5 separate regions of the Homo sapiens genome follow, and regions 2, 3, 4 and 5 are each reported to be linked to region 1. The links are microRNA targets in miRTarBase. Many come from high-throughput screens and were not tested one by one. Region 1 holds a microRNA gene; each other region holds the end of a gene's coding sequence.
Evidence for each region. The annotated mature microRNA hsa-miR-1909-3p reads CGCAGGGGCCGGGUGCUCACCG and lies in region 1 at 2,318-2,339, opposite strand. An mRNA with a match to its seed (bases 2 to 7 or 8) in the 3' UTR can be bound and repressed. Matches are read on the target gene's strand: a 7mer-m8 pairs with bases 2 to 8, a 7mer-A1 pairs with bases 2 to 7 and ends in A, and an 8mer does both.

Region 2: the mRNA of MAPKAPK2 is a reported target of hsa-miR-1909-3p. The part of its 3' UTR that is shown has no 7-base or 8-base seed match.
Region 3: miRTarBase lists TMEM109 as a target of hsa-miR-1909-3p. Seed matches in the 3' UTR shown: 7mer-m8 at 4,242-4,248 and 7mer-m8 at 4,150-4,156.
Region 4: miRTarBase lists QSOX2 as a target of hsa-miR-1909-3p. Seed matches in the 3' UTR shown: 7mer-m8 at 4,474-4,480 and 7mer-A1 at 3,369-3,375.
Region 5: the mRNA of SIRPG is a reported target of hsa-miR-1909-3p. Seed matches in the 3' UTR shown: 7mer-m8 at 3,633-3,639.

Annotation. Positions count from the first base shown.
Region 1 is chr19:1,813,852-1,819,623 of GRCh38, forward strand. It overlaps MIR1909 (microRNA 1909), which reads right to left and starts at 2,387; the gene lies at 2,308-2,387. REXO1 (RNA exonuclease 1 homolog) reads right to left here. Exons shown (of 16, transcript NM_020695.4): 8 at 5,167-5,280; 9 at 4,855-4,992; 10 at 4,631-4,744; 11 at 3,856-3,929; 12 at 3,368-3,478; 13 at 2,847-2,962; 14 at 2,580-2,718; 15 at 2,374-2,494; 16 at 1,397-2,303. The coding sequence ends at 2,215.
Region 2 is chr1:206,732,251-206,738,022 of GRCh38, reverse strand. It overlaps MAPKAPK2 (MAPK activated protein kinase 2), which reads right to left. Exons shown (of 10, transcript NM_032960.4): 10 at 3,742-5,448. The coding sequence ends at 5,305. Among named protein-coding and RNA genes, the nearest start is that of IL19, 36 kb to the left of the region's middle. RefSeq lists enhancers at 207-256, 3,207-3,396.
Region 3 is chr11:60,920,718-60,926,489 of GRCh38, reverse strand. It overlaps TMEM109 (transmembrane protein 109), which reads right to left. Exons shown (of 4, transcript NM_024092.3): 3 at 5,502-5,604; 4 at 3,047-4,716. The coding sequence ends at 4,325. It overlaps TMEM132A (transmembrane protein 132A), which reads right to left and starts at 2,030. Exons shown (of 11, transcript NM_178031.3): 1 at 1,757-2,030. The coding sequence starts at 1,856. LOC124902676 (a long non-coding RNA gene) reads left to right here and starts at 1,093. Exons shown (of 2, transcript XR_007062688.1): 1 at 1,093-1,271. RefSeq lists silencers at 1,385-1,454, 1,495-1,714, 1,775-2,134.
Region 4 is chr9:136,203,775-136,209,546 of GRCh38, forward strand. It overlaps QSOX2 (quiescin sulfhydryl oxidase 2), which reads right to left. Exons shown (of 12, transcript NM_181701.4): 12 at 2,559-5,501. The coding sequence ends at 4,954. LHX3 (LIM homeobox 3) reads right to left here and starts at 1,354. Exons shown (of 6, transcript NM_178138.6): 1 at 1,160-1,354. The coding sequence starts at 1,238. RefSeq lists enhancers at 4,661-5,212, 5,213-5,762.
Region 5 is chr20:1,625,985-1,631,756 of GRCh38, forward strand. It overlaps SIRPG (signal regulatory protein gamma), which reads right to left. Exons shown (of 6, transcript NM_018556.4): 5 at 4,238-4,322; 6 at 3,168-3,652. The coding sequence ends at 4,240. Among named protein-coding and RNA genes, the nearest start is that of SIRPG-AS1, 4.6 kb to the right of the region's middle.

The DNA.
Region 1 (5,772 bases):
GTGCAGCTGTGAGGACCAGATTCCCCCACCCCAGCCTTCGCAGGGGGCACTATCTGGGGGCAGGAGCTTGCCCAGGGCACTTGTGCAAAGGCCCTGAAGCCTCCAGTGGCAACAGGTGGCTTCACAAGCTGAAGGGAGTCCCTGGGGGCTGAAGCCAGGGCTGGCCAGCCTTGGGACCCCCCGTGGGCTATGTCCTGAGGCACCAGGTGCGTTCTGGGAAGGGGGAGGCAGACATCACATGGGAATGCACAGAAACAGAGCGCATACACGCCTGCGCCATTTATTTAGAACACAGAGCCGGGCACAGTGGCTCATGCCTGTAATCCCAACGCTTTGGGAGGCCGAGGCAGGTGGATCACTTGAGGTCAGGAGTTCGAGACCAGCTTGGCCAACGTGGTGAAACCCCATCTCTACTAAAAATACGAAATTAGCCAGGTGTGATGGCACAGCCATAATCCCAGCTACTCGGCAGACAGAGGTTGCAGCCAGCTGAGACTGGGTGACAAAGCGAGACTGTGTCTCAAAAATAAAGAAGAAAAAGAAAACAACTCCTTTACAGAAGAGGTGGGAGAGTCACTAGTCACAAGAACAGCCCTCGAGGGTGGAAGGGCCTGGCCTAACCACGGTCCCCCAGGAGGGCCCTGGAGAGATGCAGAGCCCAGAACCGGGAAGGGAGCCTTGGGATGGAGTCCTCTGGGGAGGGCCCCCACGTCCTCATCCCGGGACCTGTGCCCTTGGCCTTGCCCTTCAGCAGAAGCCCAAGACCAGGGTGGCAGGAAACCCACTCCAGGCAACCTGCCCCCAGCTGCTGGGTCCTGTCCCGCAAGGCTCATCACTTTTTCTACTTGAGGTCAATAAAAAGTGGGGCCTAAACACCCCTGGGCCTCCCATTTCCAAATGGGGTCCCGATGCAACCACAGTTGCCCGAGACGTGCGTGCACTACACAATGTGTGGCGTTTCCTGGCAAGGGCCGGAGCAGCTTTCCGTGTCTGCACTCCATCCTTTGACGGGCAACACACAGCAGCTCCCAGTCTCTTTAACCCCCTCTCACCATCTGTGTGCAGTCCCTATCTCTGGGCAGGGCAGAGAGGGAAGCCAGCTCTGTGCACAGGGCCCAGCTCCACACAGGGCTGGGGACACCACCCACTGTCCGAGAGGCACTAGAAGCTGCAGGATGGTGGCCCATGATCTGGGGCTGGAACTGGGACCCCACAGCAGGTGTGGCCCAGCCCTGGGGGAGCCAGCCCTGGGCCAGCTTTTGTGAGGGAAAGTTTCACTGCTCTGTTTTCTCTGCGTTGATGGGAAGAGAATCAGTCCCGGCTGCAGGGACAGTGGCCTCCCCGGGGCACATGCAGAGGCCTCACCAGGCACCAAGACCAAGACCACCACAAAATCTAAAATCCATACAAACATTTATTCTGTCCCTGCCTGGAGGTGAGGGGGAAGGGGGTCCGGAGAGCCCCGCAGAGGAGGACGGGGCTCTAGCGGGAAGACAGTGTCCGGAGGCCGGTGGGCTCCCTCTAGACGGCAGACCCTGGGGCTAACGAGGGGCCAGCTGGGTTCTCAGAGGTCACGGAGTGCAGGGGTGGGGCGGCGAGTGGTGGAAGCCGGCGCCCCCGAAGACCGGCCAGCCCCTGGAGCACAGAGGCGGGTCCAGCCCACACTGCGCTGAGTGTGGCCCTGGCCCCCACTGGGGTCTGTCCCACCCCCACCCCGCAGGAGGGAAGGCAGCAGGCCCGCTCTTCCCGGTGGGAAAGATGCTGTGCAAGTCATCAGGTTTAAATTAAAAATAATAAAAATAACAATACAAAATAAAAAAAGACTGTCTCAAACAAACCTGGGACAAGCCCGCCCCGCGACCCACGTGAGGAGCAGAGGTGCCGGCCACCACCCGGGAGGGAGGGCCTGGCAGGAGGGGCAGGAGGGGCTGCGGGCCGGGTGGGGGCGGGCTCTGTCCTGGTCTCCATCAGCAGCAGTTTCTAGAGACGCCAGAGGGCTGGGGGGCAGAGGGTGGGGACCGGCGGAGGGGTGCGGCAGGACGTGAGCGGGGGTGGGCTGGGCTGGGCGTTCTCTGGCCGCCAGCTCATCCCGCTGCTCTGGGCTGCCTCGGCCAGGTGGACGGGTTACCGGAGATTTATTGCACTGTTTTGGAAGAGGCATGGGGCTAAGGACCAGCGGGACGGCAGGAGAGGCGGGTGGGAGGCGGGCAGGCGTCATCGCTTGGTCTTGGCGTCTTCTCGAACCTTCCAGATCACCAGGTGCATGCAGGCGCCGGCGTCCTCGCTGGAGCTGTGCCCATCCACTGCGGGGCAGATGCGGTGAGCACCCGGCCCCTGCGCAGGGACGGCCCCAGGGCAGGCACCGGCACTCACCATTGTCCTGGATGATCTGTCTGAGGTAGTCGGCCATGAGGTTCCGCAGGGACCGCTTGTAGGGGAGGCCCAGGCGGTGGGGGAAGAGCACAGACGTGTCCACCACGGTGCTGTGGATGACCTGTGGGCAGCGGCAGAGATCAGCGCACGTGGGGCCTGCGCAGGTCCTGCTGGAGAACCGCGCGGGACCCGGGCCGGCAGGGCACCTTCAGGGCCAGGAGGTCGCTCTCCAGGCTGTGTCCGATGAGGATGGTGTCAGCGCTGAACATGCTCAGCAGAACGGCCTGGACGTCACGCAGCGTGACACTTGTGTCGGCAAGGTCAGCCTCCGTCACCCCCGAAAACCTGGGGGAACGGGCAGGAGGGGCACCAGGGCTCAGCCTGGAAGCACTGGCTGGTGGGGCGGGGGAGGGTGGGTCCCTGGGGAGAGGCGGCTGGGAGGGCTCCCAGCTCGTGGAGGGCACTGGCCACACCTGGTGTTGTAGTCCACGATCTCGTTGTCAGGCTTCACGAAGGTGTCATAAACCACGTGCACGTCCGTGTCGACCACCGTGACGCGCGTCAGCTCCAGGCCATATGTGGTGTAGGACTGCGGGCAAGGGATGCACCTCAGATGTGTCCCAGGCACCGGCCTCCCTCCCTCCCCTTCCCTGCCCCTTTGAGTCTCCAGAGCCCCTCCAGGCAGAGGCAGTGACCAGAGACTCTGTGGGACTTCTAGGAGAGGCCGAGTGGGGTGTGACCTCAGTAACCCCCTTTCGCAAAGCCCTCCTGCCTCCCATTCAGAGGCAGAGCCGGGGCCCAGTGCCCGGTGTGCTTGGCTCTGCTGGGAAGTATGGGGTGTTGGTCCAGGGCAGGAGCCACAGGCACCGGTGCTGCGAGAGAAACCCTGAGCGCTGGCCGGTGAGCCAGGCCCAGATGGGGCCAGATGGGGCGGCCGCACCAGGCCAGGTCCTCCCCAATCCTGAACCCGACGCTGGGCAGAGAACAGCCTCACCATCTCGCAGTCCAGGGCGTAGATCCCCGGGTGGGTGTCTCCTGAGAGCTCTTTCTCAAAGGTCTTCACGAAGCCCTCAAGGCGCTCCTTCCGGCCATCCTGCACGTGTTGCTGGGGGTGGAGAAGGCAGGTGAGGGCAGCTTCGGGGTGCAGTGGGGGCGGGGGTGGCAGCAGCAGCACATCTCTGAGCCCTTCGGGACCATCCTATCCATCCATCACGCCCATTCACTGGTTGGGACCCTGGTGAGCAGGTGGGGAAGGGGGCTTGCCAAGAAGACACAGGGAGGACGGCTTCCCAGGATGGGAAGTGGCCAGGGACAGGGCCTGGGGCCTACGGGTGCTACGTTCTCTGGGTAACACAAGAAAGGCTGCCCGGGGGCCCAGACCCTGAGCCCAGGACTGTGCTGTGTCCCGAGACCCCACACCAACGATGGGGAGGCAGAAGTCTGTTGAGAACAGGCAGAGGGGACTGGGACGCCAGGGCTCACCTTTGCGACTTGGCAGCCGACAGAGCCGGCGGCAGCCGAGCAGCACATGTACTGGGTCTCCCAGCCTCCGGCCACTGCAGGGGACACAGACACACAGTCAGGGCCCGGCCAGGCCCACTCCACAGCCCCCGGGGCACTGACCACCTGCATCTACCGAGCCCTACTAGGGAGTGAGGACTGAGGACAGGAGGCCTCAGCCTCTTGGTGGAGCTGGAAGCAGACCAGGCCCCGGCAGTCGTGTGGCAGCCAGGACGCCCAGGCCTGGATCCAGGGAGACCAGTGCCCTCTGCAGAGGCCTCTTGGCAGCGCTGCCCCGGGCAGCACCCTCCAGGTATCCCTGAGGCGATGGCTTTAGGGGCCGCCACAGGGCTGTGCAAGGCTGGCCATGTGCCCTGAGCGTGGCTGCGTGGTTGCCTGGGGGATTGAATAGAACCACCAGGCCAAGGGTGGGACAAGCCCCTCCGCTCCTGGGGCCAGCAACCTCCACATTTCCATGGACCAAGGGCACAGGAAGGCAGGGACACAGGGCCTTTCAGGTGGTGGCATTTGAACCTTGTCATGGGAAAGCTCTTGTCTTACTTTTGCATAAAGAACAGGTGGAGAGAAAATGAGGCCAAGGGCTAGCCCCGGCTCTGCCAAAGACGGTGCAGCCCAGGGACCCTGAGTGGGATGGAGGGCCTGGGTAAAGCCTTACCCCAGTTCTGGGGGCCTCAAGGGAGGGCCCAGGTTCCGGGGGCCATGGGTGGGAAGGGGAAGGACCCGGGTAAGGCCTTACCCCGGTTCCGGCGCAGCCGTCCCCAGTGGTAATAACACTCCTCGTCCCGGATGCAGCGGCCTGAAGAGGACACGAGGTACTCGGTGCCACAGCGGCAGCAGGTCCTGCAGGAAGCTGTGGGTGGGGACCCAGGTGGAAGCTGAGGCTCACGCTGGGGCCCGCATGCCCGGCCTTGCCCACATCCCGCACCTGCCCACCTAGGCCGTCGCAGGCCAGCGACTCACAGTCCTTGGGCCTCTTCTCCTCAGCTGTGAAGATGATTGCGCCCCCGGGCCGCTCTGGGTGCGGGAAGGGGTAGCCGTTCTCCTTGAGCTGGTCCTGGGTGAGCAGGTACTCCCTGAGGCGGCTGTACAGGGCAGCCCCTGTGGACAGGCACAGTGGTCAGCCCCTGCCTGGGATGGCCCACGGGGCGGTAGACACCACCGGGAAAGGCGGCTGGGCCGGCAGGGGCCCACGAAGCACCGTGTGGCACAGCAGGGGCTGGGCCGGCAGAGGCCCACGAAGCACCGTGTGGCAGAGCAGGGGCAGGGCCTTACCTTTCAGGTCCTCCACCCGGGGGCTGCTTGGACGGCTGAGCGAGAAGCTGGTCTTGGCGGCCAACCTGCCCCCCAACACCACCTCGTGGGACACAACCCTGCGGCCACTGGTTTCTGGAAGGAAGGGAGGGAGGGGAGGAGGGTGTGAAGTAGCTGGCTCAGACCCCTGCCCCGCCTGCTCTCCCACCCACCCTGCCCTCCTCAGACCTCTGCCTCAACTCCCCCTTTCTGGGACAGCACCCCACTGACCCCGGGTTCCAGCCTGACCCGAACAGGAGAGGCAGACATGCGGTGAGCCAGGGACGCAGGGCAGCCGCCAGCTCTGCAGGCCCCAGAGCTGCACGGAGGCCCCACACCCAAAGTCTTCGTCCCCTCCCCTCAAGCGAAGGGGGAAGGGCGGGGAGAACAGCACGGGGGATCTAATGGCTTTCGAGGGCTTTGAGCCTTCATGGGCCACCCAGCCTGCGACGCCAACCCAGGGCCCCTCCGAGTGCTAATGCAGGCGGGGACGGGGGCAGGGGCCGGTGATAGCTTAATGCAGCCTGGAGAGGCTGCAATGAAACGCCCAGGTCTCCGCTTTCTTCCTCCCCAGAGCTTAATGCATGG
Region 2 (5,772 bases), not on the chromosome of region 1:
TCCAAGTCTTGGCACAGCCTCATTTAATCTTCACATGCCTGGGTGGGGGAGGACTGAAATCCTCCCCAACAAGGCATAGATGTGAGATCTTCGTCCAGAGGACGAGGATCCAGGGTGTGGTTTATTTTGTCATTTTGGTTTTTTCACCTCACTCATGCTCATCTGAAAACCTCTGGGGCCCTAAGAGGCTGCCCTATGCCACCTGGGCTTGAATGACACATTGTTCTCAGTCTGGAACAGCCCCTAATGTGTCCAGGCCTGTGGGTACAGGGAAAGGGAAGACAAAGCCACTTGCTGCTGCACACAGGCATTTTGTATCTCCCCAACTAGGTTCTCAAGGGCAGGAACTGTGCCCTACACTTCATTTGTTTCTCCCAAAGCACAGGACATACACCAAGTGCCTGGATTATCTAGTGGTCGAGTATGCTGGGGAGCCACACTGTTCTGACTGAGTGCAGGGAGACGACAGGAAGATGAAGTGAGCAAAAGGACCCAGGGGCGGCTGGAGCCCCTAAATGTAGGCTTCCAGAGACAGAGCCCGAAAGGAGCTGCATTCTCAGGGCTGAGGATGCGGTGGCTGCCCCTCAAAGCCTCCCCTGTCCCCACTCTGCCCCACCTGGGGAGTGCCCAGAGGGTTTGTTTATATTCACCAGTAAGTGGGCCAGCCACTTTCCCCAGCCTCACCACCCTCACCCTCCTCCCTTGAATAACTGAATTTCCTTCACACCCTGAGCAGGCCCGACCTACCCGACCTACCTGCTACCCACTCTACCCACTCGTCACTCACAGCCTCCTGCATTTCCTGTCTCCAACCCAGTCAAAGGAAAACCCCAAATTTACTGTTATTGTTTACCAACCCAACTGCCTGCTCACCCCAAGGCACAGAGACCCGCCGTGAAGCTCAGGGCAGGAGCGTGGACCAGGCCTAGGCCACTGACTCGACTCCAAGCCTGGGGCTCCCTGTGCTCCCACTGCTGAGCAGCGCACTGAGGGGTGGGACCCTCCTGGTGATAAAGGCCACCTGGCAGCTGGCATTTTAGGAAGCATTTAAATCCACCATCTAGGCTGGGCACAGTGGCTCATGCCTGTAAGCCCAGCACTTTTTGGGAGGCTGAGGTGGCCGGATCACTGGAGATCAGGAGTTCGAGACCAGCCTGGCCAACATGGTAAAACCTCATCTCTTCTAAAAATACAAAAATTAGCTGGGCATGGTGGTATGTGCCTGTAATTCCAGCTACTCAGGAGGCCGAGGCAGGGGAATTCCTTGAACCTGGGAGGCGGAGGTTGCAGTGAGCCAAGATCACACAACTGCACTCCAGCATGGGTGATGGAGTAAGACTCTGTCTCAGATAAATAAATAAATCCACCATCTCACTGAATCCTTAAAACAGCCACAGGCCTAGGACTATCACCCTCATTCTATAGCAAAGAAAACTAGACCTTCCTCAGTGGAGTGGAATCCAGCCTCATATCTCCTCTCCTCCCCGCCCCCTCTGCACTCCCTTACCAAGACGATGTCCATGGGCTTTCTTAAAGAAGCTCTAAACTTGGAAACAGGAGATCCAGGTCAGAATCCCTGACTAGCTGTGTGATGCTGGGCGAGTCCCTTTACTCCTCTGAGTTGGAGTTTCTTACAGGTAAGCTGGAAACGAGACTGACTACCTCAGAGGGTTCTGATAATGAAGAGATGGAGGGGAAGAGCCCAGCATCGGTACTTGGTAGGGGCCCAGGAGTGTCTCTATGCTCCTCTTTACATCTCACACTACTTAAGGGTGTTCAAGAAGCACACCTGCTCCTGAACCCATGCAAGCCAGCATCTGCCTTTAGGGACAAAAGTTTCCATTGCCATCCCACCCAGGCATTTAGCAGAGGTGTTAAGCTCTCCCTAGAGACAGGGACTCGCAGGGCCATGCCAGCATGGAAGGTCAGGGACATGGGCATGGGGGTGAAAAGCTGTGGCAAGACCCCACTAACCATGCCAGACCCCTCCTGGCCCTTCGCCCCAGCCATTTTCCCTGAAAGCCAACCCCAGCCTGAATCCTTGCTGACCACAAAAGCATCCTCCTGAAATGGGCTGAGTCAGGGAAGGAAGCAAAACACAAGGGCCAACGTTGGGCATGAGGCCAAGAAGGCTGTGCAACGGGCCTCTGTGGCAGAATCCTGGCCCCCAGTGATGCCCATGTCTTGGTCCCCAGACTGTGGCTATGTTCCCTTACATGGCAAAGGGGACTTTGCAGATGGGATTACGGTTAAGGGCCCTGCAATGAGGAGATTATCCTGGATTATCTGAGTGGGCTCAATCTTATCACACCAGCTGGGTCAGAGAAGTGACCACAGAAGGATCAGAAAAATGCAAGGTTGCGGTTGAAGATGGAGAAAGGGGGTCATGACCCAAGGAATGCAGGAAGCCCCTAGAATTGATAAAGGCAAGGAAACACCCTCCAAAGAGGAATGCAGCCCTGCTGAGACCTGGACTCCAGCCAGCCTAGTGAGACCCTATCACACTCCTGACCTACAGAACAGGAATATCATAAATTTGTGTTGTTTTAAGCCATAAAATTAATATGGCAGAAGCTTTGTTAACAGGAAACTAATAACAGCTTCTAAAGATAGCAGAACTCTGACAACTTCCTCTCCTTCTCTCCCTGACTCCCTCCTAGCACCCCTTATTCCTCCTTCTTGGGTTATTGCTTCTAACACCTTCATAAGTGCAGACAAAATAAGTGGATTTCTCTGAAAGCAAACCCCCATGCTGGTTTGTTTTGAGCTGTGATTTTAGAGTGATGAGTAGTGTCTCAAGGCGAGAACCAACCTCAGCAACCCACTGTCATGAAGGGGAGGTCCAGGGCCTGCTGTTCCCAGGAGCTGAGGGTGGAGACATGGTCCTTCTGGCAGCAAAGGGGACAAGCAGGTCTCTCCTCCAGCGGGGAGAGGGATCTGAGTTCCAATCCCACCATGCAACTGTGGCACATCATCCCACCTTCTCAGTCACTTTCCTCACACATAAAACAGCAATCAGCAGCCGCCCTGTACTGTCTCTTGCTGGCAGCTCTGAGGGTCACATAAGAAAATGCGGGTGACACAGTGAAGGATGTGCTATTTTCCCATCTGACCCGGAGGGACTGCAATGGGGCAGGTAGCCCAGTTTCTACTTTAGGCTCTGCTGCGGGTCAAGTCATCATGTGGCCCCAGCTCTGGGCTTCAGTCTTCTCATCTGTGCACTGAGAATGGGCCACAGGAACCATGAAGTCTCTTCTAGCTCCGAGGTAGAGCCTTTGGTTTCTGCCTGACCCCTATCACCGCCTCCTGGAGAGTGCCGGTACTACACTAACCTGCTCCCCTGGTATCTTTACCAGGATTTCAACCAAATTCACCAGCACCCCCTCTTCCCTGGACCCTATACCAGCTGGCTTTCGCAGGCTAAAGGTGCCAGCACCTGGTGGTGGCTATGTAGGTCAAAGAATCATATGCCAAAAAGAGCTTGGCTCCTGATTCTGCATTTGGCAAAAGAAGATGGGCTTGAGCCCTTGCAGCCTCCCTGTCCTGCTTTAAGGATGCCCTACACACATCCTGCCCAGGTCCTCACCAATGAGGTGCTGGCTCCTGCTCGCCCAGGAGGCCCTCCGCTCCTCTCCCAGGACCCCCAACCCACACCCTCACCACCCAACAAAACCCCTCTGCACATAGAGGCGGTGGGGGGTAAGGCCTGAGCCCCAGGAAGAAAGAGAAAGAAAAACTCTCAACTATTAAATCTGTTTAGTAAAGACAATTTCGCTCATACAAAACAACAGTTTACAACAATCGAGTGCTGGACACACCATCTGAGACAAGGGAGGCGCTGCAGGCACCCAGCGCCTTCCCCCATACACAAAGACGACCCTGGGCGCCCCTCCACCACCTGCCCCTGAGGGAGAGGAAAGGTGAAGTATTCCTGCCACCTCTCCCTCCAAGGGAAGGGGGAGTGGGGGGCCATGGCACAGACAGCCTACCCCAGCTGCTCCTCATCTGTGCTGGGGGAGGCCCCTCCCCTCACCGGCCCCGAAGCTGAGTTGTTTGGGGTGATGGCAAATGGCTGATGGGCAAGGGGGCAAAGTCAGGACATCTTTGGTGCAAAGACTCCCCCTGACCCACCAGGCCACACAATGGAAATCTGAGGGAAGACTTCAAAAGTGGCCCTGCCTTTGCCCACAAGGGGTAGCTGGCTGATGCCCCAGAACCCAGGACAAACACAGGAAATGCAAAAGCTCTGCCAACAGAAGCTGCCCAGGCTCACCTACATGAGCTGGGCGGTGGCCCATGGAGAAATGGCTAAAAATTTAAGGAAAATAAACAAAAATGGGTTAATAATGGCAAGAAGGGGAAGTAGAGAGGTCATTCAGTAGATGAGTGCCTCAGAGGACCTAGGACCAGCACTAAGTGGGGGGAGGGGGGCCCTGGGGGCTGGGGGTCCAGTCTTCCTGATCGCAGTGCCAGTGCCCGGTCACTCCTCTCTGCCTCCCGGAACCCAGCTAATAGAGACAGGCCACAGAGGGCCTGTTTCAGAATCTGGGTGGGCTTCCCAGGCACTTTGGCAGGCTCAGTATGGGCAGGGCAGACCCAAGAAGGGAGAAGGTTCCTAAGCCCCAGCAGGGCCGTCTCCCTCTGCAGCCCTGCCTGCCCCTGGCCCCTCAAATGCACGATCCCAGGCACAGATCTGCGCACTCATACACACGTGTGCACACACACACACACACACACACACATACACTCACTCCTATTTGTCTGGCACACTGGAGATGTCTGAGGGCTCCGAGAGAGGAAGTGCGTGGCATCCTCCTCCAAGGTGGCCTTGAGCTCCCAGAACGCGTGAGCCAGCGGGGACAACCCCAGGCTGTTGTGGAGAAACAGGGAGGGCAGATGGGACAACACAGGGACAATCCCTATGACAGTTTCCACAAATACCCTCTAACAAACCACAAGCCTTTGCAGTATCCAGAGAGGAAGGCGTCTGGTGGAGAGGAGTGGGGCAAGGACAACAAAAGAGGTTTCGTAAAAACTCTAAGTCAAATTACTGATAAAATTGCAAAATGAGCACAGGTTCAAGAGCACCTTGCTCACTTCTCTCCACAGCCTCCCAACCTCCCAGCCTCTCCCACTCTGGGGTGGCCAGAACCAAGGCAGAATTCAGTCACTGATGCAGTTCCAGGCTCCATGCAGCTGAGGAGGAGAGGAGGCAGATGTGGACAGTTCTGTCTCTTCGTTTAAAAAATATATTCCTGTAGAGAGTTATTGCTTGTCCTCCCGTGGGCAGGAGGGCGCGGTGGCTCAGTGGGCCAGAGCCGCAGCCTCCAGGGCCCGAGCTTTCTTCCGCCTCTTCAGCAGCAGAGGGTTGGATGCATCTTCAATCTTTTTTATCTTGATCTGCTCGTAGTCAACGCGCATTGTGGCCAAGGCACTGGTCATCTCCTCCTGGGGGCACGGCAGCACCAGGAAGGGTACAGAGAGAGCCAGAAGACAGGTAGGAGAGACAGCAGAAGAGAGACGTGAGAGACAGAGACAACAAGGGCAGGGTGAGGGCGGCAGGGGTGGGAGCAGAGAGAGAAGACGGGCTGGTTAGTGGTCCACGCTGACAACGGCAGCCTCACCCCAGCGCTGGGCAGCAGAGAGCCTGGCTATGGCACTGCTGCTGTTCCCTGAGAGCCCCCCAGTGATCCCGCAGGATAGGAGGAAGAGACTTGGGCCAGGAGTCAGGAAACCTGGGTCCGGTCTGCCCCAACCAGTCACCAGCTGCGT
Region 3 (5,772 bases), not on the chromosome of region 1:
AATAATTAGCATTTTGTGAATGCTATATGCAGGTGAGAATTTAAATACTGTATGTATATGAACTCTTTGAGTCTTTGTAATAATTCTGTGAACCAGGTTCTATTATGATGAATCCCATTTTGTGGATGTAGAAAATGAGGCCGAGAGGTTAAGGTATTTGCCTGTGGTTCCACAGCTGGAGAGTGAAGGAGCTGGGGGTTGATCCCAGGTATTAGCCACTAGACCATCCGGCGTCTCCACCTGCCACTTCTCTCTCCACTCTCCACTGCCACGGTGCACCCTGCAGGCTTCATGCCCTGGAGCGCACCTCCTCTCCTCTGCTCTGCCCGGTGGCACCTCCCTCCTCATTCAGGGCCATGAGTGAATACTGCCTCCTTCTGAAGGAAGCCCTCCTTGGTTACTCACCTTCCCACCAGTCTCCTGTCTTTTGCAACCCTGGGTGCCTCCTCTGAATTAGTAATCTTCCTATAAACAAGGGACCCTGTCTTGCTCATCCTGGAATTCCCCCAAACTAGGAAGCGCTCCCTAGAGAGGATTTCCTGGGAGCCTGGAGACCTGAATTTAAATTGATGAAACTTGGGTCAGGCATTAACATTTTGAAGCCTGTTTCCTCACTTGTAAAAGGGGCAGGAGCATTAGGTGGCACTGTGGACAGGACAGGGCTGTGTAAACTGTGGAGTGCTGTCTGGAGGGAGCAGGCATTATTGCTGCTGCATAATGGATTTGACAAGGTTTTCCTCCTCTCTCTATTAGGACTCCCATGGCGTCCCTCGGGATGGGGAGCAGGTGGCTGAAAGCAACCCCACAGCTAGCTCCCTCTCAGCCCCACAGCTGGACTGTGGGTGGGGGTGGGGGAATTGGTTTCAACCTCCTTCCTGGCCCTCCCCACCAAGGAGCATATGACTGACAGGCTCTCCCTGCCCCCTGCCCCAAGCGTAACAAGTGACCACTGCTCTCTGGGGGCAGCCACTGGCTTCAGGTTCGCCTCCTACTCCATTGCCTCCATAATTACAAGATGCTCTTAGCCTGACTCCCACGGACTCCCATCACCCAGCGCTCGGCTCTCTCGGTGGGGAGGGCAGAGAATGTTTCACTGTCCCTCTGTCTTCTGTGGCATCCTTTGCCTTGCAGCCACAGCCCAGCTAGCCCAGGCCAAGGGAGTCCGACCCCCACCCCGAAGCACAGGGAAGTTGCTGCCCTTTCCCGCAGTGACAGGAATCCTCTCAAAGGTTCTGGAAGGCAAGGATGCGGCCATCCCTGGAGACGCCAAGGTCAGGGAGCCCTGGGGGAAGGGGGAGGGAGGGCTTGCGTCTGTTGCAGGTCCCAGGCAAAGGGGCTGCTTTCCACTCCCGAGGGGGGTGGGTTGGTGGCGGCGGAAGGAGGCTAGGAGGGTGCAGCGCTACAGACCACAGTGAGGGAGTGGGGATGACGCTAGTGCGCCCGGGACCGGGGCCGCCGGGTTCGATGCCCGGGCTGAGGGGTCCCTCGCAGAAGGTGCGGGACGGGGAAGCCCCTGCGCCGGGCTGCCCCGGGTCAGGAAGGAGTTGCCGGGTCGTGCAAGGTGAAGGAAGCCTTAGGGGCGAGTGGCTGGGGGCAGGTTCCCGAGGGCAAGAACTCTCCGACCTTCAGGGCGCTGCGGGGCGACCCCGCTCAGGGTTCAGTCCGAGAACCCAAAGGTTGGTGGCTCCCGGGCATCACTCGCTCCCACTCGGCCGGGCCCGGCCGCCCCTCGCCCCGGCCCTCCCCTCCCGCTGACCTCTCACGACGTCCAGGGCGAGGGCCACCAGGAGGCAGAGCCAGGGGCCGTAGGGCCCCCGAGGGGCCGCTGTTGTGCGACCGGCCATCCGCGCGCACATCCTTCCCACAGAAGGCGGGGACGAGGCGGGCGGCTCAGGTGGCCCCAGTCCCGCACGGCATCTCCCGCACCCGCTCCGCGCCGTCCCCACCTGGCCCGCTGGGTCCCGGCCGCCGCCGCCGCCGCCGCCGCCCGCCCCGCGGCTGCAATTCCCAGACAATGGAGCGGGAGCAGTGGGGTGGGAGGGAGCGAATCGCAGCACATGGGCTGCCCCCTCCGCCCCGCCGGGTCCTAGTGCCCTACGGATCCCCAATCCCTGCGCGCTCAGGCGACCGAGGTCGGGAAGAGGGCCACGTCCCTGGAAGCAACAGAGGACGGCCGCCTCTGCCAGGAGGGACTCGGTGAGTTCTGTGTGGCTCCCTCACGGAAGCTTCTGATCAGGGAAGAAAAAGCCACTTTCTCTGCCTCACCCACCCCCACAAGCAGCTCACTTGTGAAGGCATCTGACACCTGAGTCAGAACCAGAATTCAGGGACACATGGGACGGGAGCTGCAGGGACAGGAAAGGAGGGAGGGGGTCAAACGGGGCCAGATGCCAACCACCTGAGCCTGCCCTGACAGAGCTAGGCCACCGCCGTGGAGGAAGGGCTCTAGGTGCAGGCAGCTCTAGTCTCTTGACCAGCTCCACCTGGGCAGCGTCCTGCAGCGCTTAGGAGGGTTGAGGGTTGCCCAACACTCCCGAGGGAAGGCCAGCCTCAAGGGTCCTGACCCAGTGTTGCCTACCAGGCAGTTTGGGGAGAGGCCCAGAGCAGGGGCCCCAGCTGCACACTCTCATGCCCTGGGCAGCTTACAAAGAAAAAATTATGTCTGAGGCCCTCCGCAAAATTGGTCCAGCCTGTGGGCCGACTGGAAACCTTGGCACAGGAAAGTCCTCAGGTGGGTGGTGAAGGGGAGGGCAGGCAAGTCTTCTCCAGGCTGCCCACCCACCTCAGCACACTGCAGGGAAGGGGTGACCCCTCTGCCCAGCAAGCACACGCATTTCCAGCAGTGCCAGTCGTTCCTACGTTTTGTAATGGGGGCATGCTTTCCTAATTCCTTGTGCTCCTGGAGGGAAGGGTACCTGGTACCAGCCTGCCTTTTCAGCTCTCCCCTCTGCCAGCTTCACACTGCCCCCACAGGGAGAAATTGGGAGGCGGAGCTGCACTACAGAAATGGGTTTAGCAGTAGAGGAGACATGGAAGCAATCCAGACTTGGAGTAAATACATTTTATTCAGAACAAGATAATAAAATAGCGTGCACTTTATTTAAAACCAACCAAGCACTGATAAAAAATATATATCACTGCAGCTGTGATTCCACATCAAACCTGAACAGTAAGAATTGGGCATTTATTCTTCACATCATGTGCCAAGCCTGGCAGAGAAGGACATCCACCTCCACTAGAGCCTCAAAGGAAAAGTGGCCCCTAACCACCAAGACAGGGTACCCTGGTGGAGAGGGGCAGCTGGCAGCTCACCCTGCTCTCTGCAGACCACGTGAAGGGAAAGGAGCTGCCTGTGTTCCTCCCGGGCTGCCGGGGTGGGCACTGGTCAGCAACTCCTTCTCGGTTTCAGGTTGTGGAGCGATGGGGAGAGAAGTGCATGCAGTTGTGCAGACAAGGAGGCGGGTCCTCCCTCCTCTTTCAGGGTCTCTGAAACCCCCACAGGGCATATAATGCCCAGCAAGGTCCCACTTGCAGGCACATGCCTACAAAGCAGCAGCCATCTTTTGCTTTGGCTGATGGGGAATCAAGATTCTGAGAGTGACTGCTCTTTTCTTGACACAAAGCAGCCACAGAACACTTTCCTACATACAGTATGGCAGCAGGCAAGCAGAAGGCCCTGCTGGCTCGGATTAAGGCACTTGAAAGAGACACAAGGTACATCCTCCTCCCCTGCAGCCCCCACAGGCCTCAGGGGACCCTGTTTCCCCACCCTTTATCCTCAGGTCCCCTTACCCCTGCCCCTCCCTACTGCTGGGCAATGAGGAGGACAGGAGCGTGCCTTAAAGGACCATGGTTTGGTGGGAGTACAGGGTAGGAGGATGAGGAAAACAAGAAGGGAGCTGGAGATTTGGCCAAGGAGCAACTTCAGAAGGACAGGAGAGCACGAGCATTAGGAGGAAGCCAAGGCAGCAGCAGAGGGAAGCCAGTTAAGTCATGAGAGACCAACGGCAGTGATGTTTGCTGGCGCAGATGCAGAAGCCAGAGGGAGGCCCCTCCAACCTTCCCTGGTGAGGCAGGCTGGGAGCAGAGAAAGGGTTAAGAGAGCCAACCCCAGACAGAGAACCTCAGAAGACAGGGCCGCAAGGACAGGCAGGGGGAATGGTCTTTCTCTGTTTCTCTTGGCTAGTGGGGCTGCGGCAAGGATCAATGTTCTGAAGGTTCAGAGACAGGGCAAGAAAAGGGCAGGGGGCTGGCAGGAGGGCTGCATGGCCCCGAAGCAGCTCAGCTCTTTGGTATGACACTGGCGGTGTGTGGGGCATCCGGCTCACTCCTCCTCCACACTGCGGGCCCCCTTGGCCGCTCGCCTCTGGCGCCAGCGCAGCTCCTCCACCTGGCGTTCCAGCCCTCGCACCTTGGCCTCGAGTTGGGCCCCAGAGGCTCGGGAGCCAGTGAGCCGGCTCAGCAGGGCGTAGAGGATCAGCAAGGCCAGGAGTAGCAGGGCCCGGGTGGAAGGGTCAGGCACCGACCTCATCAGGGCCACGAAGCCGGCCAGGAAGATGACAAGCTTCAGGCCCCACAGGATCCGCCCCAGCAAGGCCAAGACCAAGCCGAGGAGCAGAGACAGCAGCCAGTAGACGACCAGGGCCCCTGCTCCCCACAGCAGGAAGGTCTGGACCTGGCCAGGGCTGAGCTTCAGGCCCTGGGCGAGGTAATCACCTGGAAGCCAAGAGAGTCACAGAGTCAGCCAACCTGGAGAAGTGGTGAGGGGAGAGCGGGGCAAGAGCTAAAAGGGTGGGAGGTGCTAGGCACATTGCAAAGGAATAAGCCGTTCTCGCAGACTCAGAGTGATATGGGTTGGAATCTCAGCTCTGTTTCTTGCTGGCTGTGAGGCCTGGAGTAGATTACTTGCTTCTGTTGAGCTGCAGTTTCATTTACTAAACGGGAACAATTCTACTGCCTCCCTGTACTGTGGCTGGCAATTAAATGAGATACTACAGCTCAGCACGATGCCTGATAGGAAGTGAACAACTGGCACGTGGTGGCGGAAGTTCTTTTTTAGGGGGTCTGGGTGGGACAGGGTTTTGCTCCATCGCCGAGGCTGGAGTGCAGTGACGTGATCCCGGCTCACTGCAACCTCTACCTCCTGGGCTCAAGCGATCCTCCCACCTCAGCTCCCAAGTAGCTGGGACAACAGACACACGCCACCATGCTTGGCTAATTTTTTATAGAGACGAGGTCTCATTATATTGCCCAGGCTGGTCTCAAACTTCTGGCCTCAAGTGACCCTCCTGCCTTGACCTCCCAAAGTGCTGGGATTACAGGCGGGAGCCACCACACCTGGCCATGGTAGTTCTTGGCTTGCTCTTTGGCCATGTCTCTGCAGAATCCTGGGAAGGGTTAAGCAGCTTGGGGAAAAGGCTAGACCCTGACAAAGATGAACTCCCACAAGTAGGAAAGTACAGGCAAAGCTCTGGCTGACTACCCAGCACTCGAACACTCACCAGCTAGTCCCAAGGCATTCAGCAGCTGTGCGGCGATCCCAGACAGAGCAAAGAAGGCCACAGAAATGGCTGATGAGATGGCCCACAACACTTGGGACGAAGACTGTGGAAAGAGCACGGAGCGAGATGAGTTCATAATGAACAACGGTCCTCGCCTTCACGCCTGATCACCACTGTCCAGGCAAGAACTGCAGGAATGTCTCAGACCTGTTTCTCACCCAGTGGTGACAGGCCTGGGTCAGAGGGTAGGGGCCTTGGGCCTGGCTGAGGG
Region 4 (5,772 bases), not on the chromosome of region 1:
AGCCCCAGGGCACACCTTCCATTTCCAGCCCCCAGCACTCCGGCTCCATTGGAACACGGTCCCTTACCTGATATTTCAGCCTCTTGCCCCAGTCCACACAGGTGAGCTCTCCAGAACCCACCTGTCCTTGCAGGCAGAGGGACGCACCCACCCCTGCCCAGAGGGCCCTGGGCCAGCACCAGCCCTGGGCAGCCACCCGGGGAAGAACACAGCAGTGGGTGGCCCTCGGCAGCACAGGACTTGGCAAAGGCAGGGGTGCCCTGGCAGTGCGCAGAAACACACAGGAAGGGTTGGGGGACCAGGGGCTGATGCCATCCTGCAGGTCCCTCTCCCTGTGGGTCTCACAGCAATACTCTGTCCACTCTGCCTATGGCTTCTGGACTGTGAGCTTTAAGGGCCCAGGCCCAGAAGGATGGGCACAAGAAACCACAGTCCCTCCCTCCTAGCTCCCAGCAGGTCCGATGTGTCCGTTTTGAGCAGTGGCCCATGCAGCCAGCTTTCTGCCCCTTCACTTTGCACAGCACTTGTTACCCAAGAAGGGCCAGGGCAAGGACACGCGGGTGCAAAGCCGAGTGTGTGCGGGCTGTGCTGGGTGCAGGTGGCTGAGTGTCAGCTGCTGCCGAAGCGATCAGGGGTCGTGTGTGGCAGGACTGGGGAAGGGGCGGCGGCAGGTTAAGGAGGCGGCCCACCCTGCTGGCATCTGGCCAGCCCTCCAACAATGCCTCCATTATTTCCCAGCGTCCGTGGTGATGGAATGGCCCTTGGGGAGGGTGGTTCAGGCGGGAGACACAGGCTTGGGTCCCCTGCTGTGGGGTCCAGAGACCTGGGCCGGGCTGTGTGCAAGAGCTGACGGGCACTGGTCACCGGGGGAACCTAGCACCCCTTGGTCGGCCCCATCGCCCCCCAGCTGTGCCTGCGATGCCCCCTTTTTTTCTAGGGGCCTCCACTCCAACCGCTGTCCCGCACTCTTGCAGGCCAGCGTCAGGCCCTCCCCGCCACCCTGGGATCTGGAAACTCACTCTCTGCAGTTTCCATCTCTGTGTCCCGCCTGCAGAGCGGCGGGACTTTCTTTGCCTGGCCGCTGGCCCTGCACGCACCCCCTTCCTCGCGCCTCTGCCGCCCTTGCCGTTTCTGTCCTCAGTGTCCTGCTGGGGCTTACCCCGAGTCCCGCCCAAGGTGCAGACGGCGGCGGCCCCGGGCCTCGCTCGGTCGCGCTCGAGCCCCGTTTCCAGCAGCATCGCGGCCACCAGGCCGAGTGGCGCGAGACGCGCTCCTCCTAGGTCAGCGTCCCCTGGAGGGTTCGGGGCTCCCAAGTCCCGCCGCGTCGTGCGGGGCAGGGAGCCCGGGAGCCACTGGGCCTGGCGCTGTCCGCGGTGCTGAAGGAGGCGCCCGCTGCCCGCCCCGCCCGCGCGCCCGCCCACCTCCCGGGGCCCCTCTCGTCGCCCCGGTCCCCACCCCCGCCTCTGCCCCGTGTCGGGCGCGCCTCCCTCCCTGGCTGGGTTGGGCCGCACTCAAGGCAGCCCCCGCCCTCACCCCTCTGAGACCCAGGGTGGCCGTGCCCGCTCCTCCCTAAGCTCCAGGCCCTGCTGAGGCGCTGGGATTCGCCGAGTTTCGCAGCAAGCGGGTCGTCCAGCCGCAGGGCAGGAGGACACTGACCCTACCCTTCTGGCGTGCAGCCTCTGGAAGGCAGTGCCCAGGCCGTGCCCCGGGGCAGCCCCATGCGTGATCAACTCCAGCCCAGGGCTCACTGGGGCACTCTCCTGCAGGTGTTTTGCTGGTCAGGGAACTTTCCACTCTTAACCTCCTTGAACTCAACCCCCAACTTCTGGGAGGAGCTCAGCCCGCACCCCTCCGGGCTGCCAGGAGGAGAGGCACCTGCAGTCCCCTGTAACAAAAGCACTGCTGAGGACTCAAGACCTTGGGCATAGGCAGGGCCTGAAGGAATCGCCCAGTACACACCCAGGCTGGTGTCTGCTCGGTGCCTGACGAGTGACTGAGTTACTGCCAGCCTCTGCACAGCCTGGCCAGGGAGGTGCCAACCGGCTTCCTCCACAGCCACAGGCAAGACTGTTGACCACTGCCCTGCCCCCACTGGCACAGCAAAAGTAGGGGAGGGGCAGAAGACAACACGGGGTCAAGGGCACCCCACAGAACACCACAAACAGCCTTAGCAGGACACTCACACCCAGGAAGCAGAGGGATGGCCACTCAAGCAAGCTGGGGGTCCTCTGAGGTGCCCTCAGGCTGGGCTGCCGCGCGTGCTCTTTGAAGTGTGTAGCTGACATGCATCTCAGCTGCCCTTTAACCTGTGTAAAATCAAGGGTCTTGTCCTGTGAGTCTCGTCCAGATCAGCTCCAGGGAGATGATCTATCACTGCTTTCCATCTTCTACTTTCCATCCGACCCTTGGGCTGTGTCCCAAAAGCCAATGATTCGATAGGAGAAACTCTAGGATTTCAGATGTCCAGTACGTGAACAAAAGAGGGGTCCATTCTGCACCCACCGCCTCTACCACAACTCCCACTGGTAGAGCTGGTTCACATTTCAAAAGAATCACCATTTTTTCAAATGTCAGATTTCTTTATTAAAATGTGCACATTATAGTTTACTTAAATACAAAATGTTCACTTTCCTTGCAGGTAAGAAATTTCACTGACATTTCCATGTCAATTAGCTTCTTTTTAATAAAAATCCTTCCACTGAAAATAAATAAGCATTTAAATTACTGAACTATTATATTCATTAGTCTCAATACCTCTTAAAATACTTAAAACTTTAGAAAATAGACTCTAAACATTGCCTAAAGGTGGCATCCAGCTCTGAGCAGGCCACACAAGGTGTGTCTGAGTATGGCCATATGACTCCTGGGGCCACCTCCACGACGGCCCAGCCCCACCGACGCTCTGCTGAAAATCCTGCCCCTCAGCAGGACGCAAGCTTGTTCCCCAAATAGTGGTGACCTCAAACTGCAATATGATGAAACCTGCAGCCAACACTGCCCTCCACAAGGGTTTCTGGAAAGGCTGAAGCTGGAGACGGTAAACCACAACACCGTCCCAGGTCACTCCAGGTCACCCCAGCTAAAGACATTCAACACCAGCCAAAAGGCTAAAGTTTAGTTTGAAGGGTTCAAAGGCAAATACACTGAAACCCACGTGTAAACCTGCCTGGTTTTCAAACTGGAAGAGAAACACTTTGGTGTCTTCAATAACCCAGGCCTGCACTGGATGAAGCAATGAAGGCAAGGTCACGGCTGCTAAAGCACAGAGGGGTTAAAAAGTGTGAAACCAGAAGCAACTCTCGAGTGAGACACGAAGCAGCAGGCTGACGCACCAGACACCGCTCCCACCAGACACCTCTCCCGCCAGCTGCAGGGCCCTGGGCAGCGTTCTCAGCCCAGCCATTCTGTGACAGTTGTTGAAAGAATCAGCTGTTGCCTTTTTTTCTCAAGCGACAACAATCACATCAATATTACATGGTCTTATGAATACATCCATGTCATCAACTTGTTAGTAAACACATGATTATACAACATAAAGTAGGCAAAGCGGAAAAAATATCTACAACCGTCAAAGTCTCTCTCTCTCTCATACACACACACACACACACACACACACACACACACACACGGGCACACAAATACATCTGAGCCTATTTTAGCCAAATCAAATTTTGCCTGTGAGACACACCAATAGCCACAAAGAATCTCAATATAAATGTTCCCAGAAATAGTGTATTTGTTTGTTTACATCTTCAGAGGCAACGGACCACTAAATGTTTTGGGTTTAAAAACAATGTTTAAAATTATCAAATGGTAAAAGACATCATGACAAAAGCTTGGGAGATCAGTGCCTGTGTGGAGACCCTTCCCAAAACAGCTTCAGGCAAAGGAAGCCTGGCCCCCTCCGTGGGCCGAGTGAGATGCTTGTGTGTGCAGCAGGTGCCTCTGTGGTGCTGGGTGAAGAGCAGACGACAGGGGGGGCTTTAGAAGTCTCCCTGGGGCCTACGCTCCCAAGGGCAGACTGCTCTCCTCCCCATCCCCCAACAGAGGGGCCTGTGCTCTAAGCACTGCCCGCTGAGCCCAGAGCTGCCCTCCAGGCACCCGCCGTCCCAACGGCCCCCATTTACTTGTCTCTCTCTTGTCACCAGATAGACAGACAAAGGCGCTGCCTCTGAGGGTTAAATGAGCCCCCATCCTTCCAACCCCCAGGTCCACAGCCCAAGGCCTCTGGGGGTTATTTTCTGAAACGCAGCACAGCCACAGAATTCCTTGGCTCCTCCCCTGTTGAAATCCCCACGTCTGGTGTCGAACACCCGGAGGAACAAGGAGAGCCCTCAGGAACCTGCCCTAGGGAAGCAGCTACAAACACAGGATAGTCCCTGGAGCACTTGCTTGGAGGGGCTGCAGAGGCCGACTGCGCTTCCGGCTCTGTCTGTCCCCGCCCGGCTAAAGGAAAACACTTGGCAGCCTGGAGCAGGGGGCGTGGGGGGAGCGGGGGGAGGGGGAGCGAGGGGAGTGGGGGGGAGCCAGGAGCCGCGGGGGGGATGGGCGAGGTTCTCCAAATACAAAAACAAGGCCCTGCAGGATGGGGCGGAGTGGAGGAAACGAGATGAAAGTGTGTGGGGAAGACTATCTGGCCTGGACTCTGCACCCTCTTTTCACATCTAGAAGAGTAAAAATACAGAAGTCTTTTTGCTGTAAGACCTGCAAAAGGAGCATGAACAGACTTGAGTACGCCAGGAATGCAAATATCCCCACAAAATTACCCCGTGTTCTTCCCTTGTTAGAAGAGCGTTTGTAAAACCAGGACTTTGAAGCCAAAAGGTGCCATCCGATGTGAAACCAGGCCCGCATGTTTATAAAATCCCTGATCATAAATATTAAAGCTGCAGGTGGCACGGGGCAGGGCTGCCTCCAAGGGAGCTTCCGCCGTGGCTGGCAGCACCCGGGCACTCACACGGCCGGGTGGTGGTGCTTGACCTTCCACCGCCTGGACCTCACCCGGAAGAAGAAGTACATCACCATGAGGAACAGGGATGAAGCCACGTACAGCACGACACAGAGACTCATGTCCAGGCTGGAGAAGTCAACCCCGAGGAAGGGTGCGGCCCCGCCCACCTCCTTGTGGGCCCCGGGCCCATCCAGACTCTGGAGTTTCCCGTCCAAGCTGTGATGCAAGCTCTCTGGAAGGGCAGGCCTGGGGCCCAGTGCACCAGGTGGACGGACGCTCTGGGTGTCTCGGTCTCCATGGGACACCTCTGGGGGAGTGAGTCTTTTCTCCTCTTCCTCACCCCTGGCCAGGGTTCCTCCTTCACTGGAATCCCCCTGGTCTGCGGAATACGTGTCTAAGAGGTTGTCGCGGCCATAGTGCTGCTTCAAGAATGTGAGCACGTGGCCTTCATCCCAGCTGGCCAGGCCCTTAATTTCCTCATGGCAGGCTGGGCAGAGGTCCGGAGTGGGCCACTGAAGCTTTGGAAACCGGGGATCCTCACTCAGATGGCCTAGGAAGAAAAGGAAGCGGGAGAGCCAGAGGGAAGGAGGCTTTGTGCAGCCACGTGCAGCGTGCGGCAACCGGACTCCCACTCCCACCCACCACGGGCCTCCACTGCCCTGGCCCAGGGTCCTGCCAGGCCTCCCTCCCTGCCCTTCCCACCACCCGTCCCTTGCAGTTCGGCCCAGATAACATCCTGCTTCTGCAGGCCCCTGCGCACGTGTTCCCCTCTGCCGGTTCCCATAGCCTGCAAGTGAGGAGACGCTACACGCTCGGCCTCC
Region 5 (5,772 bases), not on the chromosome of region 1:
ACTTCAGAGGTTTGTTATGGTCATAAAATGGATTAATATATGTAAATTCCTTAATAATTGCTGATTGTGCTCCAAAAGTTAGATGTTATTGTTATTAGGTGGTGTTTTGGCAATAGTAATACCTTTAAAAAACAGACTCTCTGTCCTCGAGGATTTACGATGCAGTGCGACAACCCTGGCCAATGGCTGGGGGATGTGCAGATACCACCACATGATGAGTGTGGGTCACGTGTCTAGCCCTATAATCACGAAGTCATTACTAGCACCTGGGTCATGGTACAAGCATGACCTCGGGAAATCACTGTGACTAAAGAAAGGCAAATCCCGGTAAGAGTCTGCACAGATGCTCACGGAAAGTGTACTCCAAATCTTGTCTCCTGCTGGGATGGGAGAGAAGAAAATGTTCCCAAATGGAAATCCATAGATACGGGTGAGATGGGCTGAGAGGGTGAGGAGACTTACATATAAATACACCTGTGTAGAACAGGCTGCTCTCACCTGTGAGTCCCAATAGCATAAAGAGGCAAGGGTTGTCCAGGTGGGCTGGAAGACAGGTATGGTCATTGCCTGCTCTGTTGAAAGTTTATCACGGAGAGACCCCAGCCTCTGAGCTCTGCAGGGAAGGAGAAGCCCCACCTGCCATGATATCTGAGGAGGGAATTTGCTGTGGAAGGAAAAGGCCACGAGACTGGCATGGTCTCATAGTAAAAGAGGAAGCAGGCAGAGTTGCCACCCCTGGGAAGTTGCTGATATCCACCTTGGGGTTCCCACGCCTGGGAGCCTTGGACAGTAGTGGAGACAGTTTGACTGCTCTGGGCCTGCTCTCTGTCCCAGGGGCACTCACTTCATGCCAGGGTTCCCTTGGCCCTTCCTCAGTTGACAGCCCTGATCCACAGGGCCCTGTAGCTAAGGACTGAGTTTGGATTTTCAGAGACTGTAATTCTGGGTGTGGAAAGTTTGAGGTCTTGTTACTGTAGCAGCCTTTAAGGATGGAACCAAAACTCCTGGATGTCCCCTGCAAAAAGTCCCTAGGGCCAACATCAAGTAACAAGCTGAGCAAATAAGAAATGGCAACTCTTCTCAGGTCTGTCAGAGAAATGAGGTCACAGAGCAGACCATTGTCTCCAAAACTGGAAGTTAGACAAAATGATATAGAGAATTACAACTTCCTGAAGCCAAAACCTCCATGGGAACCAGTGCCAGGGTAGGAAAACCTGCACTGTAATTGAAGAATTGCTAGAGGCTTGGTGTGGGCCAGTCTGAGGAACAGATTCCAGCAGGACCCAATCGCAGGGAACTCCAACACTGTTGTGAGATTTACCTCCAGGAGCTTGATTAGGTGCTCAGAGTGAATATGAGAGAAACATTCACTTGTGCTTCCTGGGGGGTGTGGAGGGGAAAGCGAATCATTCTGAACTACACCAGAGCATTCTTTCTTCTTACCAAGCCCAGCTCTCAGGAGAAACTATTTTACCAGTGCCTAATCTGCTGGGCTTTGATCAGAGCCTAACCTACCTGGGGAAGGCAAGCACCCAACTCCAGCCCCCTCTGGCCATCCTGTCCCACCATAGGGGAAAAAACTGAGAGGCACTTGTGAAGTCCACAGGCCAGGGGCACAGGCTCACATAAGACTGCAACCTCATGTAACTGGTGATGAGCCCATGTGACATTTTTGGGAAACAAATAATTGAAAGAGAGATTGGACAACCACAGTGAAAATGCAGTGAATAAATGAGCAGTGAAAATGCTGGAGATAAAGTTCAAATTGTATGTCAGTGGAGTTATAGAAGCATGAATAGCTGGTGAGGCAACGTAGACCCTGGTAGTGTTTGAAAAACTTCAGATAGGCAGCCCGCAGGACTTAGAGAAGGTGAATTTAACAGATACGGGATGGGGTACTGACAAATAGGGCGAAGGTGTCCCTGAGGATGTGACAACAGCAAAAATCTTCACGTGAAAGGAACTTTTGCAGAGATTTCACGACACTGAAAGTGCAAATGATAAGGTGCTGGAAACAAATCCAAACTTAGAGAGGAAGGTGATAAAACACCCAGATAGAAAGGATGTTTGCTCCATATCCGAAGTGTACAAGAAGGAGGTAAGCACTCTTCCAACTACTCTTGAAACATTTTTACAAAGAAATAAAATACTGAAACACTTGATGTTTCCAATGTTTTGAATTACAGGGTACTAATAAATATTCATTTATTATTTTTTATTGCCTTCTACATTTGTAACTGACACTATGAGAGTTTCCTATATTTTGACAAAAAATTGTAAAGGTCACAATATGATCATTGTTTTTCTGATTGGATGTGGAGATTGCTTTCCTGGGTTTCCGGCTGCACAGTCATTCTTGCAATCTTGCACTGCTGTGAAAAGCGAGGGCTGCCTGTATTCGTTATAATGCTTATGGTAATAAATGCTAAATAAAAATTAATCAAGATAAGAGAAATTAGAATGCCAGGGTAGACAGGAGAATTGATATTATGTACAGGGTGGTTTGCCAAAGGTGCCTTTAATAAAGTGACATTGAGCAGAGGCTTGAAGGAGGGATGAAGGGAGCCATGCAGCTGTGTTGGGGAAGAAGCAGAGGAGTGATACAATTTGACTTTTCCAAAAATCCCTGTAGCTGAAAAATGAAAGCCAACAGAGGCTACAGAAGTGTTCCCGGAAGAGATGATGCTGGCCGGGACAGGGAGGGGTGATGGAGGTGAGAAGTGTGCAGGTTAGGGATGTAACTCAGTGCTCTCCTGCAGCAGGCTTGGACTGGCCCCTGAAAGCCAACCGTTAAGTTTCAGGAATTTTGCAATCCAGTTGTTAAACTTCTGGTAGCTTGAAACTGGCCATGTTGGGGGTGATTATACCACAGAAATTGTCAAGTACAACAAATCAGCTTTTTTTTTCCTTTAAGAGAGTCCATTTTTAAACACTTACCATCTCACGAGTGGACATAAGTATTTTGAAGGCAGAATTGAATATGGGGTGTAAAGAGACATCAGGGAGGATTCGGGAGTCAAGGAGGCTTTTGGACTGCGGCAGCATTTCCGCCATGAGCAGCAGGGCGGGGAAGCCTGCAGGATGCTAGAACTAGTGTTCCCATCACAGAGAGAGCAGGGAGAGCTTCTTTGTTTCTGAGTGTGAGGAGTAGGACCCTTAGACAAAGAGGAAGGATAATCTTTTTATTTTCTTAAAACCACTTTGGGAGTGCATTTGTATTCAAGAGGCAATAGAGAACCTCAACAAGGCTGGGGAGTTGGGATAGGCAGGAATCTGGAAGGCAGGATAACTCTTGAGAACCTGGAGAGCGTCTGTGGTTTACGGTCAGTCTCAAGGCGATGGATGGGAGTCCTGGTGTGTTTAGATTTGGCATGTTTCTCGCCTTCTAGGGAGGTGCCGTTAAGTCAGTGCCCAGAGCCCAATCCCATGGCACCTGCTCAGGACCATGAATGAAGACCTTGCTCTGGGGCATCCAGGTCTGTGTGAAGGAGCAACAGGAGCCTGTGGGCAGGCAGATGTCTTGGGAGGGGAGATGTTTGGAGCCAAGTCTAGAGAAGCTTCTCACTGGCTCATTCTCTCAAGCTGAGCCTCTCAGGAAAGGAAGGAGGCAGCAGAGATGAGGGTCCCACGTGGCAGGGGAGGAAGGAAGGAGCTGTAGGAAAACACATCCACACTTAGTCATCTGCTCATCTTTCAAGACATGTTTCCTGAGAGTCTGTTATGTTCTCGGGGCTGGTCTCCTGGGATACCTGTCACTGGTGGACAGGCAGTCCTGATAGAACTCTGCCTGCTCAGCCATCCTGCCAAGTCCTGATGCCCTTTCCAATATTCCTTCCACTCAGACACACAGAGGGTCAGAGCACAAACAGCCTTCAGGGCTTCCCATTTGGGTTTCTCAACATTAGTTTACAATGTGGATTTCTCTGACCCCATGGAGTCCCAGCATTCAAATAATCTACAGATAGCCTGCAAGGGACCACCCACTCATCACTGCCTCCATGAAACTCCTAGGGCACTGTGGACATCTTTGAACACATTTCAAGCATCCCACATTGTACACCACCCACATAATTTCTGTGGGTTGGGAGCCTTTTAAAGGGTTCCCCAAGACTTCCGAGGGTGCGGAGGGAGCTTAACTCCACGGACCCTGGTGCTGCATGGCATGTGGGCTGGGCCTTCCTGTTGGCCTTGCCCTTCTGAGACAGCCCTTGGTCTGTCCTCCCTTCCTTGTACTTACAGTCAGGTCTTCTGCTTCCAGGGGACGTAGATGGGGCCCAGGAGGACAGCTATGAGGAGCAGCGCAGTAAGGGATGATGCCGGGCCTGGAAATCAGGGAAGACGAGGGGCTATGAGAGAGACCACTTGGGAGGCCATTGTAGGGGCCTCCACTTACCCCATCTGAGGCTGCCTGGGCCCATCTATGCCCCACCTTTGAACCTGCATCCTGCCCAGGCTATCTTCACTCCAGCACAAGGCAGAAGCCACAGAAAGAGGCTCCCCATTCTCACTCATCCTGTCCCAGGTTGCCAGCTTATTCTCCTGGAGGGAAGAGGTGGAGGGGGTGTGTACTCAGGTATTCATACATGTGGCAACGGGGTTCCTCACTTGACCCTCACAAGCCTATGGGAGCAGGGATTGTCATTCCATTCTGCTAGGGAAACTGAGGCCCATGGATTTTAGGGAGGGTCACAAGGTTACTTGCATTCAAACCTAAAGAAGCTCATCACTAGTGTTCCTTAGGTTGATCCCTGAGACCATGTCCTTTGGAACAAAACAAGTCCAAATTCCTAGGGACATTTTAATGACTATAAAAGGGTAGGCAGGTGGCTTGAGGATGGCTTCACAATGAGAGTTGCAGGTTCCCTGCTTAGCCCCAGAAGTAAGGGGAGGACTCCGTGTTCTCAGAACTTGGAGGAGCCATGGAACACTGGACATAATGAAACCTTCCGGCTAGAAAACATCCTGGTGAGTCACGGAAATGGGTCTCATGCTTGGGAGGGCCTCAGATGTCACCTAGGCCACCTCCACCCCAGTGCAGGTGTCATCTGAAATCTTTCTGTTAGTTGGGCACACTCAGTTACGGGGAAGCACATGTTTGGACGCTGCATTTTTAACATGAGCAGTTCAGGCTTTTAAAATCAACATTTTTAACGCGAGCAGTTTGGGCCATTAAAGATATTACAGTATATTTTAAATAAATAAAATGGTGCTGGTGGGTCCTTAAGGAAGAAATGGAGAACTCAGCATCTGTGGCTGCTGGGGTGTTGGAGGCCGGCAGTTCTCAGCTGGGTGGCTCTCTGGGACTTCTTCTCCCTTGAGGAAAGCTGCACTGCCCAATTCCAAGTTCACTCCTCCTTCTAGGGGACAGCCCACAAGAAAGATTGGCTGAATTGAAAATAGGAAGGCCACGCTTCTCTCCTCAATTAAAAAACACTACATGACGCTCTCAGCCCTTGGGATCCTCCGCAGGAGCAGCTGGGTCTTTGTTCTACCTGCACTGTAGCTCAGCACCTCGCTCCTCCTACAGTCCTGCCTCCCCATTTCCTGAGGCATGCTGACCCTACAGCTCTTCAGGATGCTTCCTGCATTCCTGTATCCATCTCTAGTCTGCCTTACAGAGAAACTGACCTTGGTAAGTTGTCTGTAAAGCTTACTCTAAAATATAAATTTGAAGCCTGAATACTCATCAGCTCGCAATGAGGACCTCAGGGCTGGCAGTGAGTGGGGCTGGGCACCATGGCTGGGATGCAATTGATAAAACTTTCACTGGCA